Regions from separate parts of the Homo sapiens genome. Here region 2 is linked to region 1. Evidence: fine-mapped expression QTL. Tissue or cell type: aorta. Region 1 holds a variant in brackets; the other region holds the start of a gene. All regions are shown on one strand. Distances are from middle to middle.

The links. PIP is the estimated chance that this variant, and not a neighbour inherited with it, causes the effect.
Region 2: COBLL1 starts here. The variant in region 1 is fine-mapped to the expression of COBLL1 in aorta (GTEx, PIP 0.93).

The regions. Positions count from the first base shown.
Region 1 is chr2:164,731,374-164,739,482 of GRCh38, forward strand. The region is part of intron 3 of COBLL1 (cordon-bleu WH2 repeat protein like 1); the gene reads right to left. Among named protein-coding and RNA genes, the nearest start is that of SNORA70F, 48 kb to the left of the region's middle. The variant G/A (reference allele first, on the strand shown) is at 4,507.
Region 2 is chr2:164,837,637-164,845,745 of GRCh38, forward strand. It overlaps COBLL1 (cordon-bleu WH2 repeat protein like 1), which reads right to left and starts at 4,187. Exons shown (of 14, transcript NM_001365672.2): 1 at 4,074-4,187; 2 at 3,520-3,610. The coding sequence starts at 3,560. LOC101929633 (a long non-coding RNA gene) reads left to right here and starts at 3,113. Exons shown (of 2, transcript NR_110574.1): 1 at 3,113-3,186. RefSeq lists a silencer at 4,161-4,370.

The sequences.
Region 1 (8,109 bases):
CAGGGATACTTACCAATTTTTTGCTTCCCTTTCCATAGATTCTCATTGTTGACACAGACTTATATTTTCATTCATATCACTGACAGAACAACATAGTCTCTGAGTCTTTCTTAATACTGTCATCCCTTAAGGAAAGCACACTAAAAAATCTTTGGTATCATGTGCTTTCCCCAAATGTCAGGTGATCCTAAACTGTTAGTTCACACTTAAGAATAAGGCACTAAACCGCAGTGTGTACATCGTATTTTTACAGATGGAGGCATAGGTTCATGGGATTCACTTTAGGGTAATCGGGTAGCCAGCCATCTGCATCCCACCTCGAAAGGGAAATGCACATATCAGTAAAAAGTTATTCTCCAATTTCTTGACTAGAGATATAAACCTGGTTACTGGCTTTTGGGAACTTGACAGGGAAATGGGGCTAGAAATCCCACCATTCAGTATGCTACTTTTATTTTAGTGCACCTGTTTTCATACGGCACGTCACCCCTAGTAAGCTCCCAGGCCTGCAGCCTCTGATGCAGTTCTTCCAGACAAGGAGTCTCCTGCAGAGGTGGGGAAGGATTCACTGTCGGACACTGTGTGGTCTTGAAGTCAAACAACACGTTACATAGATTTCAGATCATCCCGTGTTCAGCCCCCATCTCTACTTTCTGTGGTCGCTGCCTACTCCTAGGCCAGTCCAATCTTTATGGGATAAGGAGTATGTTTCTCAACGGTCCCTCACACATCCCTTCTCCCCCACATACAAGTAGCACCCTATTACTTGTATATATATAAAGAAAAATAAATAAATCAAAGGTTCTAAGTCCCTCAATTTAAAAAAAATTCTCAGGAATACATTTCAATTCTCAAAATACATTTCCTGTGTCTTTATTAGATGGTTGCATAATATTTAAGAGTTTTACATCCTTCTTTTGAGCCACAGGCTATGCCCATAAATGTATCTATATTGCCCATGTTTTGGCTTTAAACAGGACATTTTAAATTTCATCCAGAGAGAGACTAGCAAAATGGTCTTGTGGAAGTTGATTTTTTGGTAATATGGTACTCTACAAGAGCAATTGGATGGCACATACCAATTCTAGACTTGGAAATAGTACTTTCTTTGATAGTAAATAAAGTTAAGAAGGATTAGGTAATGTCTAGTTATATACTATTATAAATGCAGTTTAGCTGGAAGAGAAGAGAACTTTCATTGCCAACTGAAGGGGTAGCTGTCTGCTGTTGTCTATGAGTAAATGATGATACATGCAGACTGTATTTCTTTCTCTCTATATATAAATGTGTCAAGTAATAAATGTAAAAACATTGAAGCTCATTCTTCCAACATCTTTTACTTCTTAAATATACAGTTTTTTTGAATCTTTGCCAGAAATACATAAGTTAACAAGACAAATGGCCGGGTGCGGTGGCTCACGCCTGTAATCCCAGCACTTTGGGAGGCCGAGGCAGGCGGATCATGACGTCAGGAGATCAAGGCCATCCTGGCTAACGTGGTGAAACCCCATCTCTACTAAAAATACAAAAAATTAGCCAGGCATGGTGGCAGGTGTCTGTAGTCCCAGCTACTTGGGAGGCTGAGGCAGGAGAATAGCGTGAACCTGGGAAGCGGAGCTTGCAGTGAGCCGAGATCACGCCACTGCACTCCAGCCTGGGTAACAGAGAAAGACTCCATCTCAAAAAACAAAACAAAACAAAACACAAAACAAAAAATTATTAAAGTTTTGTTTGGTTTTTATCCCTATTTTTGTGCCATAATTTTCATCGTTTATGTATAAACATATAAACATTTAAAATACATTTTTGATTTTTTTAAAAAGAACAATTTGATTCCTTGTGTAGAAACATTGGTATTTCTATCTGTGATAAATTAATTTTCTAATCTAATAAATAGTGTGGGTAATTGGTTAAGAATATTAACATAATGGCCTATTCCCTCAGTCATTTTATTTATCTAGAAACTTTACACACTATATCAGATATCATGAGAAAAAAGTTGCCGACTATATCATGACCTTTGCACTCAACACTGCCTATATGTTTTCTACTAAAAATGCCTCTTTGAGAGGCAACTGAAAACCACAGAAGTTCTTTATGAGTTTATTCTCTCATTTTATAATTCTAGGTCCAATTCTTTATTCAATAATTTCAGAAGCCAAATTTGTCTTGAAAATATTCCTATTGCCAGACAAATAAATGCAGCAATCCAGAAAGTTCTGCAATAGACATAACTACATATGTGAATTTAATACTGCATATGAATTGTTTCTGGGGAAACAACTGAATTTTCAGTAAGTGGTACTGGGAAAACTATCGGATGAAAAAGAAAAGTTGTGTATCTAACCTGATTCCTTACACCAAAGTAAGCTCCATGTGGATCTTTCTATGGTTTGTGTTTTACAGTAATATGCCCAATGGAATTTTCTGCACTGATGGAAACGTTCTATATCTGCACTAACACAGTGGTTACTGGGATAGTGGACTCCCAAACCAAATTTTTTATTCAAATTAATTTAAATTCAATATAAGTAGACACATTTGGTGAATGGCTGCCATACTGGATAGAGTAATTCTAACACGCTGGTTCTCAAGGTGTGATACATAGACCAGCAGCATCAGTATCTGCTGGGAACTTGTTAGAAATGCAAATTGTCAAGCCCCAGCCCAGATCATTAATCAGAAACTCTGGGAATGAGGAAGAGCAATCTGTGCTTTGACAGGCACTCCAACCTATTCTGATCATACTGTAGTTTATGAAGTTTATGAAACTGATCTAGAGAGAAGAGAAAAAAGAAACAAGTAAAATATATAAAATATCAGATGGTGTTACATGCTCTGACAAAAAAAAAAAAAATAAGGAAAGAAGTTAGGAATGTCCTAATTGAAAAATGACACCAGAATTGAGACCTTGAAGGGACTGGGATATCTGCGGAAAGATAGCTTTGACAAGTACAAAAACCCTGAGGCAGGAATGTGCTCTAAGTGTTTAAAGAAAAACAGAAACTAGTCGGCTAGTGAAAACAATAGGCATGAAATCAGGGTGATAATCTTGTAGTGTTTAAAGGCCTTTCAAGTGAAGACTTGAGATTTTACTGAGTGAGACAGAAAGCCTCCAAAGAGTTCTGAGGAGTGATGTGATCTACTCTACTTTTTAAAAGGATTACATTCTGGTTTTTGTATTCAAAATAGCCTGGAGGAGCAGCTACAAGGTTATTGCGAAAATTTAGGTGGGAGATGGTGGTGTCCTGGACTACTCAGATTCTAGATACATTTTGTAGGGAGCTGATAGGATTGAAGCTAATGCAGAAAGGAGACAGAGACAGAAAGAGGAGCTAGCCAGTGGAAAGAGGGCAGGATTGGAGGGACAAAGTGGCAGTGTTGCTGAAAGTAACCAACAGGAGACCTAAAATGCAAATTTCAATGGTTTGCTATGTGATGTGCTTACTATAACTCTACAAGCCATCACTAAGGTTCTGGTAGCCTTGGGAGGTGTCAAATAAAGGATGAAATTTCAAAAGCAGAAACTGAAAAATATGAATCCAGAGGTGGTAAGGCATAAAGTCAGAGCCAGAGGTGACCCCAAGAACGTAAAACTCTTGGGAGTTTACAATGAGATTATAAAGGGCATTGAACCTTCCACAGGAAGTGGAACAGGGGTTCAGGCCAGCCTTACTTAGATCTTAAGCAGCAGAGTGACCTCAAGAAGTTAACTGGGTTCTGTGTGTACATAGATGTGAGCTCCCCTCTAGCAGGACCACATCTTAGTAATCTTTAGGCACCTGGCTAGGTCGCTGTTGTCGAATGGGGAATTTAGAGAAAACAGTGATTAATTCTGCTTGAAAGTCAAGGGGCTCAAATGCATAGTAGACTAATACAACTGACACATGAGAAAGCATACTTGTTGAGAGGAGGTTCATATGCTTTAGAAAAAAGTAACATGGTGAAAGCTCTGTTGTTTTTTATAATTAATAAGCTTGTTTTGCCTAAGCCATACCATCTTTACACAAAGGTGAGACATAAACATTAAATAGGGTTAAGATCTTTTCCAAAAATAGACTCAGACTAGTTTGAATGCTTTAAATATTTAATTGAAGCCTCAGCATTCAGCACTGTAACACAGGAAAGCTGACCCTGACCACAAGATTTTGAGGTTGGGAATTACTGACTGTCTAGCTTTACCATAAAGGAGTCATAACACTACAAAAGTAGGACATTAACTTTTAAGCAGGTCGTGCTTCCAATGGAGCTGCCGCTGGGGTTAACTAGTCACAAAGTGCACCCACAGGAAATAAAATAATCGCTTGAATAGAGCTCAGAATTATCCACCTGGATGCCAAACTACTTCTGCCAAAGATAACAATTCTGGTTGGATAATCATCCCCTAGTTGATGCACCTGAAGGCAGTTGGCTAATGGGTTTGACCACAGGATCACCACAGAAAAGATGCCTGTCTTCCTGTTTCCTAAGGCAGGAGCACACGTGAGCAGTCCATCTAAAACCTGA[G/A]GCAAATCATTAAAAGTGGAAAAGGATTGGATGAACATTATAATCACTCCTCTATATTATTACACCACATTGAATTTTGGGTTATTTTATTACTCAGCAGAGTCTGCTTTGCATTAACATTATTTACAGAATTTTTTCTCTTGTAAGATAATATAATAATTTTCTAGAGGGCTGATTTTTTTTTAAGACTCTAAAAGCTCTTCTTTGAAATGAAGAAATCCCTATGAGATTTCCCACTTCTTTCAGAAATAAATAACAATTCCCTGGATTAGTTTCATATCTGTACCTTGTAAGTGCACACCAACAACCCAATTACACATACCAGTAATAGTACAGAAATTTTAAAACATTCTCTATTGCTGCTGATGTTTATCAATCTTATGCTAACCCATGTAGTTCAGTAATGAGTTCAGGAATGAAGCAGTGCTCTCTCTGTGTGTGCAAGAAATGAAATGTACCAGGTACACGAAACAAATAGACCCATTCTCAAAATTGAGAATGCTTATTATGCTATAAGAAATATTTTGAAGAAAATAACACATGAAATTAAGATTTGAAGATAAATAGTAATAGGTCAGATTACTAAGCTGATAAGTTCTTAACATACTAAAAATAGATATTACTAAATGTAAAAAGCCCCACAATTTTTAGAAAGTCACCACTTTGGACTCTATCTGGTTGTTTATCTTAGGTGTTATACTCAGAGCTAATTATAAATAATTACCATCATAAAAATTGTGATTTAAGAACACACCTACTAAACACACATACATGCCCCTTATAAAAACAAAAATACTACAAATATATCTCACTATAATTGGGGCAATTTGAATATAGACAAAGGATAACATTTTATTGACATGAAAGATGGAAATCATTAACTGAAAAAAAGCAGGTTACAAATAGCACGTACAATATAATACCATATTGTTGTAAAAAAGAAGTGCACATATAGATGGGTGTACATATATGTGCATGCCTAAGAATAAAAGGCTAGACACTGCAATGTTAGAAGTTGCAATCTGCCTGCTTAATGAAATTGCATTTACAATTTTTTGGCTTATCTGTATTTTCCAACTTTCTAAAACATCTAACTATTGCACTTGTAATCACAAAAATTTAAAAACTAAAATTAGTGCTGAGCACGGTGGCTCACATCTGTAATCCCAGCACTTTGGGAGGCCAAGGCAGGACAATCACTTGAGCCCAGAGTTTGAGGCTGCAGTGAGCTATGATTACACCACTGCACTCCAGCCTGGGCAATGGAGTGAGACCCTGTCTCTAGAAAAATTTAAAAATTAAATTAAGTTAAAAAACTGAAATTAAAAAGGGTCATTATTATAAGGTGTAGACGCCAGGAAAGCAAAGGGAAGAGGGTGGCCCTGCCAGGAACAATGTTCTGAGGACATTTGTGAATACTTTGTCACCCCTTTCCCAACCAGGGGAGCAGGCAGGTGACAGAGGCTGACATTCTCCTGGGCTCAGAGCCATGGGGGACATGGGAGGGCAATGACAGAACCTAGATGACAGGATGATTAAAAACTCAAATAGTACCGATTAAAAACTCAAGTAGTACTGTTATGTCTAGGTACTTGCACAGTTAAAATGCCAACTTTTGTTTTAGGCAATTACAGCAGAATAAGGATCTAAACCAAAATTTAAGCATCTTATATAGTTAAACATGGTTTGTACCACCCTATAGATTTTTGACAGTTAAAAAAAAATTACCCTGCTATAAACATATATTTATCACACATTTGTCATCACTGGACACTTCTCAATAAATATAAATATGACGTGAACTTCAGAAATTTTTCTAGATCCATACTGTTGTTACTCTCGTTTTTTCAGCAAAAATCCCACACCGATCCCTTTATCTTGTCATTTTTCATAGTCTACTTTTTCCCAATAGGTGGCGCTGTAATCCATGTAAAATGCTCCCGAGTTCCTCAGCGGACCAACCCTATGCCAGGCAAAACCGCGGGCTTAGGCTCAACTCTGCTGTAAACTGGTGCTATGGGACAGGTAAATCAGGCTGAAAAGCATGTGCGACATGTCTCTGGGTTATTTTATGTGAAAAGCCCAGAGAGGTGAGGTGACTTGCTTGAGATCACACAGCAAGTCTAGAACAAACTGTAACTTCTAGTTGGGACTTCTAGCTTGGAGTTCTGTGCTTTCTTTGTGTTTTCAATTATGACATCTCACATGTGCTCCAATCAAAACAAATTCCTATTTGTGGTAAGGGCGTAAAAGAAATATCTTCCTCTGTTATAAATGGTGCTTATTTCTTCCTCCCTCTTGTAGGAAAGTGTGATAGCATGCCATTGAATGCTCTCTCAACAGGCTAAGAAGGATTCGTGTCAATCTTTTCAGATTTCCCAAAATGAACATTTTGCTTTAAAAGTTTAGCCTGGAGAAAGGGAAAAGAGGAAAAAGGAACTAATACTTATTCAATGAGGAATAATTACCTATGAAGCTGATACCCGACTATAAGATGAAGACCATATACAGATCATATACAAATGTACCCACATATTTCCTTATTCTATGTGGTTTCTATATCTGTTTAGTCTATAAGCTCACTTTCATTAAAAATTAACTTTTCCCAAGTACTAGCAGACACCACTGCTTATGCTGTTGTGAAGTATAGCATTTTCTGAGAAGAAGAGCCACGAGTTCTGTAACAGTAGTCCTTTAATGTTCATTTCTAGAAAGGCAAGGAACTGCTTTGACTGGTGAAAAAGATGTTTATCGATTATATACATGATACACAGACACACAGAAACAGGTTGAGTATCCCTCATCCAACATTCTTAAGGCATGAAGTGTTTTACATTTCACATTTTTTTTCAGATTTTGAAGTATTTGCATTACACGAGTTGAGCATCTCTAATCTGGAAATCCAAAATTTGAAATGCTCCAATAAACATTTCCTTTGAGCATCATATTCACACTCAAAAAGTTTTGGAATTTGAAGCATTTGAGATTTTGGATTTGGTATACACAGTCTATACACAGACGCACACATTTATATATGTGTGCAAACATATATACATACATACACATAGACATACACACACATACATCTATACTACACTGTATCTTATATATAAATTAAATATTTTAATTCCTCCTTCTTTCAGTCCAACCATCCATGATATTAGGATATGCAGAAATGCCCAAGAGTTTTCAGGTTAGCATGGCAACCCCCGCCCAATGTAAGCAGAGCCTCACAAAGGCAAGATAGTAGAGACATGGTGACTTTTGGTCATTAAAGAGATGGCATCACTAAGTTCTGGTACCAAAAATAGTTGAGCTGGCAGATGGCTACCAACCTAATTCAGGATAATAAGTTTCTCCCTGAGCATAAAGTCTGTGACCACCGCCAACCCCACTGTGTTTCCTAATCTGAACAAGCTCTTTGGTGAAAATCAATGTACAAACAAGTGCGTTCTTCTGAAGATACCACTGTGCACTCACATTCCCCAAAATAGAACATCCTGAGCCCACCTGTGCATGAGATCTATGGGGGGACTTTCCAAAAATATTCCCCAAGAACACATTTTGAGTGGGAAACTTATTTCTGAAAAGTGAACTGAGGCA
Region 2 (8,109 bases), 110 kb after region 1:
TGAATTAGATAGGAGTATATATGTATGTATATGTATAGTATACATAAAATATGTAATTATATATGAATGTACATATTACATTTGAATATATATAAAGTTGCATGCAATCTTTTTTCTCGAAGGAAAACCGAAACTGTTGTGACTCAATGTCTTTTGATATCTAAACTCTTAACCTCATAACGAATTCCAAAAAGAAGCCCATAAGATACAGAACAACAAATATAAAGTGGATACTTCTGCATGTTACTAAGAAAGTGATCTAAAGCCAGGCACAGTGGCTTGTGACTGTAGTCTCGGCCATGCAGGAGGCTGAGGTGGGAGGATCACTTGGGCCCAAGAGGTCAAGGTCAGCCTGGGCAACATAGCAAGACTCCAGCCTGTCTCAAAAGAAAGGGATCTAATCTAGAATGGTAAGGGATTAAAGCAGTACAGTAGAGGCCAAAATGAAAGACATTCAAGATGACCACAGGATCAGACCCTTTTAAGGCAGGGACTTCACCAGCACAGACCCTACGGCAGCCACTATTTCTGCACACCATTGCTTCCACTGAAAAGAAAATGACACCCAACCCATATAATTCACAATGTCGTAGAATGCTAAATGCGAGTTAAATGTGTGAAGGCACCAAACAAACTTCAAACTATCCCTTTTGATGTTACAATTATTATTTAGAATGTTTCAAAGAAAAAGCAGCAGCTGAGAGGCCATAAAACAATTTTATTTTCCTAAAATACTCATTCCCTGAATGGGCTAATTTATCATAGAATTAATAAAAGTGAAGATAAGGATATCAACTACATTTTTCCTGAAATGTATTAAAATATTACAGAGTTAATGGTTAAATATAAGTTATCCGTTAAAATGTATAACGTCATGGTATGTTATATCATACCATGGTCAAGAAAAGATAAAAAGCAATTAACAAAATGAACTAGGCACTTGGAGTTTTTCTTCTGGTTTTACTACTAATTTGCTGGGACTTCAACACACTCAGTGTTTCTGAGCTTCAGATTCTCATTTATAAAATGTGGAGAACAAAACTTGGTGCTATGTTAAAATGACATGTTACAACAATGTAAAACTTGGAAAATTACAGAGGAATTCTTTCCAACAGTAATATCCAAGGATAAAGACTAAACTAGGCTTCATTGTCTATTAAAGTAATGAGTTATGATATAATTAGTCAGTTTTATAGCAAGAAATTTATCTCCAAAACCTAACAATTATAACATATTAAGATTTCTGCCTGCCACTTCCCAAATACCCTTATCTAGATATTTTTCCCCCAGTTTAAACCTTTTATAATTTGGGTTTTTGAGAGAGAAGAGAAGCAATACTGAATATTAAATATTCAACAAATCTTATATGACAGGCATTCGGAATATGCCAAAGGACAAGTTAGACAAGTGAAATAAGACAAATGAAGTAGAGAGGTAATTTTTTCATGTTGATATTTTTCAGGTAATGATAACTTCTCTGAGTAGAATAATGTAAGGCAAAATGATAGAACTACTGTGTTATTTTAGATAAGGTGTTGACAGATTTTCCCTACTTAAATTTGAAAAGGGGACGGCAAAAGTCCTTTACAAATGCTTGACAAATTAGATAAGGCTCTTTTGTACTTTCTTTTTAAGCAAAGAACTTATCAGTTTAACCTTTAAATTCTCAAAAGTGGCTGGGCGCACTGGCTCATACTGGTAAACCCAACACTTTGGGAAGCCAAGGTGAGAGGATTGCTTGAAGCCTGGGGTTTCGGATCAACTAGGCAACATAGCAAGACCTTGTCTCTACATTAAAATAAAATATCAAGAGTAAAGTCTGAAGGTTCTTACTACAGTTATGCTTGCCAGCAAAAAGTGTTCTTCTGTTTCTTCAACACAGAGCCATCTGACCTCACCTATTTTACTTAAAAGTCCCCAGTGACTTCTGAACACCCATGGGTGTATTTTGTGAAAGCAGGTATGTTTTTCTTTCTTTTTTGTTTTTTAAAGTACCTTAACCTAATCCATTTCCAAATCCAATTTAATTCTATCTCATTTTGCAATCCCTGAATACATTTCGGTATCCTGACAGCTGTCTCATCGTCAATTCACATAATTTTGCAGCTCCACTTAGGAACCTTGCTTGTATGCTCAATATCTTTCTACCGATATATTTCTTTACTCATCCTAATGTGAGAATATATGTCAGGATATATGAAAATATTTAAGCAATGAAAAACCTGGGGAAAGAAAAGAAATGAAAGTCAACAGTGGGAGTAATATTTGCAGAAAGGAGAAAGTTAATTTGAGCAAAATGAAATAATTAATACACTACATGTTTCCTCTATGTAAAAATTATACTAAATATCTTTTAGATTAGTCATGTTGCTTTGAGACTTTTCCATGTTTCCTCTAGACAGCTGCCAATGTTCGCATGGTCTCTGATGAATAAACATGCTGTGACTTGCTTCTAAGGAAACGCCTGTCATGTTCCAGGGAAAAATGACTTCTACACTCTTAAATCAGGAAAACTGTACAAGTCTCATTCATTAGTGACAACGTCGATTTTTCCTTAACGTTTCTATTTCTGGAATGCTCGTATTCTCATTAGGGCATTTCTGCATTCAGATTAACTAAGAAAATAAACTATGTTGGAGGAACACTTATGCTGGGGGGAAAAATCTTGTACTACATCAAACGAGTTTCCTACTTGAGAAACTCAACTAGCATCCAGGTTACTCCTGAACTATTTACTAAGACCAAGGTTATTTTCAGGTTTTCTTCATCTCTTGCAGAACTACCTGTTCTCATTACTGTTTACTCAAACGCTTAACAAGGTAACTATTAGCATATCTGGCAGGAAGACATGCCTCATTTAATATTAACTCACCATGTGACAGCCCCCTTCCTCTCTTCTCAAACATGTGAGGATAAAAAGAAAAGTAGAGTTGTTTGCAATCTGATTTGCGCTGGGTTTTGGAACCAGCAATTGGCCACAGGCACACACACCCCCAATCAGAGGCGCGCACCCCGCTCGCTCCCGGAACTGTCATGCGGGCTGACAGCTGGCACACCCTCCTGTCGCCCTCCACCCGCCTGCAGAAAGCCCACTCCCTACAGTCACCTTGACATTGCTCACCTGCCTGGGCCTCAGCCCATGACCAAGGAAACTTTTGCCCTCCCTCCCCAGGAGCTCACTTACAGGTATCGTCCACCGCTCCCCCAGAGCCCAAACAAGGGTCCCTTTGTTACAATTTTTGCTCCCGGACTCCTCACCCAATTCCTGGCATTCAGCTGGCCTGTAGCAACCCAGGGCAGCCCCGGTAGGAAGGCAACCAAAAACGACCCGAGCCCTCCGCCCGGGCGGCCTCCGAGAAGGCCGGGAGGAAGCAGCCTCCCCGGCCGCGTGGAGGACAGTCAGTGAGTCAGGCCGCCGGCAGGGCAGCGAGTTGCCAGCCAGGTGAAACGGCCGAGGCCTCGCTGTCCTCGCCGGCCTCGCCCTCCCCGGTGAGAGGCGGCGCGGCGCTCTGGGCTTACCTGGCTGGGGCGTCCTGCGGGCGCGGGGTTCGGCCGTCCATCGCCCTGCGGGGCGCTGCGCGGGCTCCAGCTCCCAGGCGGCGCGTCACTGCTGGGGTGGGAGAGGCCGGCGGGTCAGGGCGGGACGCGCGCCTTCCCGAGGCCGGAGCGAAGCTGGCTGAGCGTCAAGAGCCCGCCCGAGCCGCTCCAGCCCCGGCCGGCCCGCCTCCCGGGTGCGCTTCCACCTGCGGGCCCCGGCTCCCAGCCCGCGGGCGCCGCCGCCGTCTCTACAAGGTCTAGCGGGCGCCCAGAGCACGGCGGAGGAGGCGGTGGCGCTGCAGCCCCCGCCCCGTGGGGTTTACTGGGTAGCCATTTGGCGCCTCTCGGAGGGAGAGGAGCCGCCGGGGCTGGAAAAGGAGGAGGAGCGGGGCCGGGCGCACGGGCACCGCTGCCACGCCGGCAGCGCACTCCCAGGCTCCTCCGGCCGAGTTTGCACAAACAAAACGCCCTAGGAAAACTTTTCCCGAAGAGAAGTTGGGAGGGCTGATCTCTCTTTTCCCACCCAAGGCTCCTACGTTCTTTTCCAAAGGAGACAGTAGCTCGCCTGTTCTCCCTCGCGGCTTCCTCTCCTACTCTTCCCTTCCCCGGCCCGCGCTCTTGCCGCTCGGCTCTCAAGCCAGGACTTGAATGGAGAAGCGGCAACCCCTGCGAGGCTCAGCCCAGCGCGGGCAGGGCCGACTCAGCACCTCCCCTGTCCCGCGGGCGGGGTGCGGGCGCTGGCTGGGCGCTGGGGGCCTCGCTGGAGCCCGCTCTCTCACTCACCCTGCCCCATTTCCCTGCCCGGAGTCCGGGAGCTCGCCGCCGCCTCTGCAGCACGGCCGCACATAAGTGGGGACCAGCTCGGCGGCATTGGAGCGAGGGAAGCAGCGAGCCGGAGAGAGGAACGGGGCGGGGGTGGGCCGGGAGCAAGTTGGAATTTCCTTCCCCCAGGGCTTCGGGTCTTTGGGGTCCGGCTGGGGAAGCTGAACCGAAAGAAAGCTCCCAGACGAGGTGTTCCCATTCCCACCGCTAGGCTGCGCTTCGGGAAGGCTGGTGCGCCTGAACCGGACAGGTGCGGGGGAAGGGAGGTTACCTGCCTTGCCAGGATCCGCGGGGAGGATTGGGGCCTCCGCGGAATGCGGTCAGAAACTCGCAGAGTGGGGCCTGCAGCTTGCCCCCCCTAGAGTCCGACCCTCGACGTCCAGGATCGTTTTTTTAAATTTGTGTTTTTAACTTGACCTTTAAGATTGCCATTCTTTTAAAAGCGCACCTGTGACACAGATCTTTCTAATTGGTGGCAGGTTTAAGCTTGCCCTGTCTTCAGAGGCATTTTTTGTAAAAGCCTATAACAGCTCTGACATGAGAACTGGACAACAGTATGTCTAATGACAGTCTATAAACTAAGAATTAAGTAATAGATTGTATTCACTTATTGGAACTTTTACAAGGGTAAAGGAATCAGACACAGCTGTGTGCTTGTTTGTACGTTTTAGTATCCACGTGCATGCCCTTTAGATGATTCTTTACACCTGACAGACAGGTACTAGGTTGGTGCAAAAGTAACTGCGGTTTTTGCCATTTTTTTTTTTTTTAAAAAGTAATGACAAAACCGCAATTACTTTTGCACCACCCTAATATATTTACATATTTTATATTTTTCATAAGCGCCAATTGTTTTAAGATGCGCGCCATTCTGATGGGCCCAAAAATGTGTTTTCAGAAAACAACGTGACATTAAGAAATGAATTTAAAATTAGAGTTTTAAAAACATATTTGGATTAAACTGATGGAGAGATCTTACAGGAAGGAACATCCTGCAGGGGACTTCTGTTGTAGCACTAACATCAAGTAATAAACCTGTGTTAGCCACTGATAGAATAACATTTGGCAGGTATTACAATTAAATTGATATTAATGCTCCTTTAGTTGGTTATCCATTGCAGCAACAAAAAAAGATTGCTGAACTAAATGCCTAGCAATGTGCCATTTGTCTACCACACGCAGGCATTGGTATTTATTTCTTTCAGTGCATAATGTCCTTTCAGTGCATCTTAAATATGAAAAGAAAAAAACACATGGCTCATTTGGATTACAATACTGGAACCATATTAGAAAAAGTTGCTTTTAGAGATTTTAACTAAGAGTAAAGCAATTTATTTAAATACCTCTGGGTTTTAGTCTTTAAACAATAACTCTGTTTAAACAATTTCATGAATCATTTATGCTTCTGAATACAGAGCTGTGCAAGCTTTTACAGTTGCTTGCACAGACAATGATGCAAATATTGAGTAACAGTGAAACTACTTGAAAGTCCATAACTTTCAATCACAAGACAAGATTAAATCTTTAATTAGTTTCAGCCTTAATTTATGACATACTAGTAATATTATGGACCCTAATACCAGTAAGATTAGGCTAATCTTAGTCATAAAACATTCATAACATTTCGTAACCACTGAAGGCATTTTCAGTGCTTACCACTTTTTGCTGTCCTCCTTCTGGTCCTAGGGAGAACTATATGCTCCACCCCATGGAAATTAGGTATGACCCTGTGACTTTGATAAGTGGAAATGTGAACAGACATGAAATGCTTTATTTCCTGGTGAAATTACTGCCAGTGTTTGAGTCTCTATGTTCCCTTCCTTTGCTACTGCAATCATGAAAGCATGTATTAAAATGAAGGTGACACAAGACTGGAATGCTAAACTATTACCCAGAGCACAGCTGCCCTGGAGAGTCCCAGGACCTACAACAGAATCCACATAAGCAAGAAATAAGCTCATGTTGGGCAAAACCACTTAAGAGCACCACCAAGCTTGGTGGTCTTCACATAATGGTACTAAGCTATCCTCACTGTAGCCAGTGATTAGCAAAATAATAATCACAGATTTGCTATAAATCTTTTTTTTTTTTTTTTTTTTTTTTTTGGAGAAGGAGTCTTGTTCCTGTTGCCCAGGCTGGAGTGCAGTGATGCGATCTCGGCTCACTGCAACCTCCATCTCTGGGGTTCAAGTGATTCTCCTGCCTCAGCCTCCCGAGTAGCTGGGATTACAGGTGACCACCACCACGCCTGGCTAATTTTTATATTTTTAGTAGAGACAAGGTTTCACCATGTTGGCCAGGCTGGTCTCGAACTCCTGGCCTCAGGTGATCTGCCCACCACAGCCTCCCAAAGTGCTGGAATTACAGGCATAAGCCACCATGCCTGGCTGCTATAAATCTTTTCACATAACAGGAGAAAACTGCTGTTTTCCAATCTTTCTAGTTATGCAGAGCTGTTTCAAAATTGCCCACGTTTCCAAGATTGCGCTCAATTTCCCCGTTTGGGAATCTCCCCCTCATTTCACCACCCAGCCGATCATTTTAAGTGCCTAAGCATAGGTATTATCCCCTCAGGAATACTTCCCTCATTGCAGAAATAGAAGTAGCCCTTCCCTTTCTTGGCCCCCAGTAGGTTCTGTTAGGTAGGGCAAGGACCCATGACACTTTGTTTCAGTTATTCATTTACATAATGCAGAGTTGGAGGGGTTTATTCTCTTTTTTTTTTTTTTTTGAGACAGAGTCTCACTGTCACCCAGGCTGGACTGCAGTGGCATGATCTTGGCTCACTGTAACCTCCACCACCCAGGATCAAGTGATTCTCCTGCCTCAGCCTCCCGAATAGCTGGGACTACAGGCATGTGCCACGTGCCCGGCTAATTTTTTATATTTTTAGCAGAGATGGGGTTTTACCATGTTGGCCAGGCTGGTCTTGAACTCCTGACCTTGTGATCCGCCTGCCTCGGCCTCCCAAAGTGCTGGGATTATAGGCGTGAGCCACAGTGCCCAGCCTACTCTTAAAGGACCACGTCTTATCCTTTGTCTCCTGAAAGCATAGCCCAGAACACAGGAGACTCTCCACCAGTATTTGTGTACTGAATAAAGGAATGAAGGAAACCTTCAGGCCTTCCCTCCTCAGAAGAATCCTAAAAGGAACTTGATTCAGGGAAAGACTTCAACTCAAAGGGGCTGGTAGGCCATTTTAAATGGAACAGATGGAAGGTGAGTTTGTCTTACTAGAGAAAGAAGACTTATTCTTCACGTGGTTACCTAATGGGGTTAGTACCAAAATCAATGGGTAGAATGAAGCTAAATGAAGGTCCACTTAGCTATATATCTCTCTGAATAATAATCTAGGTTTCATATTCCTCCTGGATAGTAATAAATGGAAAGGAGGTTTACATGCTTAATAAATACCTGTGTGCTTATATAAAAAGCAGATAGGCATGTTAAAGTGGGCCATAATGGTTGGAGTTTGTCTAAAATTTTTGTAAACTATTTGGAATAATGAAAACATTTTTAAATGCTTATTTTAAGTATGTTTTTATTCCACTATAAGTACCACTTGAAAAGCTTTATTTAAAACTGAAAAATTACACTTAAAAGATGGTTAATATCTTTCTGTGCATTTCACCTTTGCACATTACAACCTAAAGGAAGTGTTTATTTTATGTCTTCTTAGATTGTGTACATGTGTGTGTTTGTGGTTTTATATAACAAGATCAGAGTTGTTACATTTCAGTTTTAATAAAA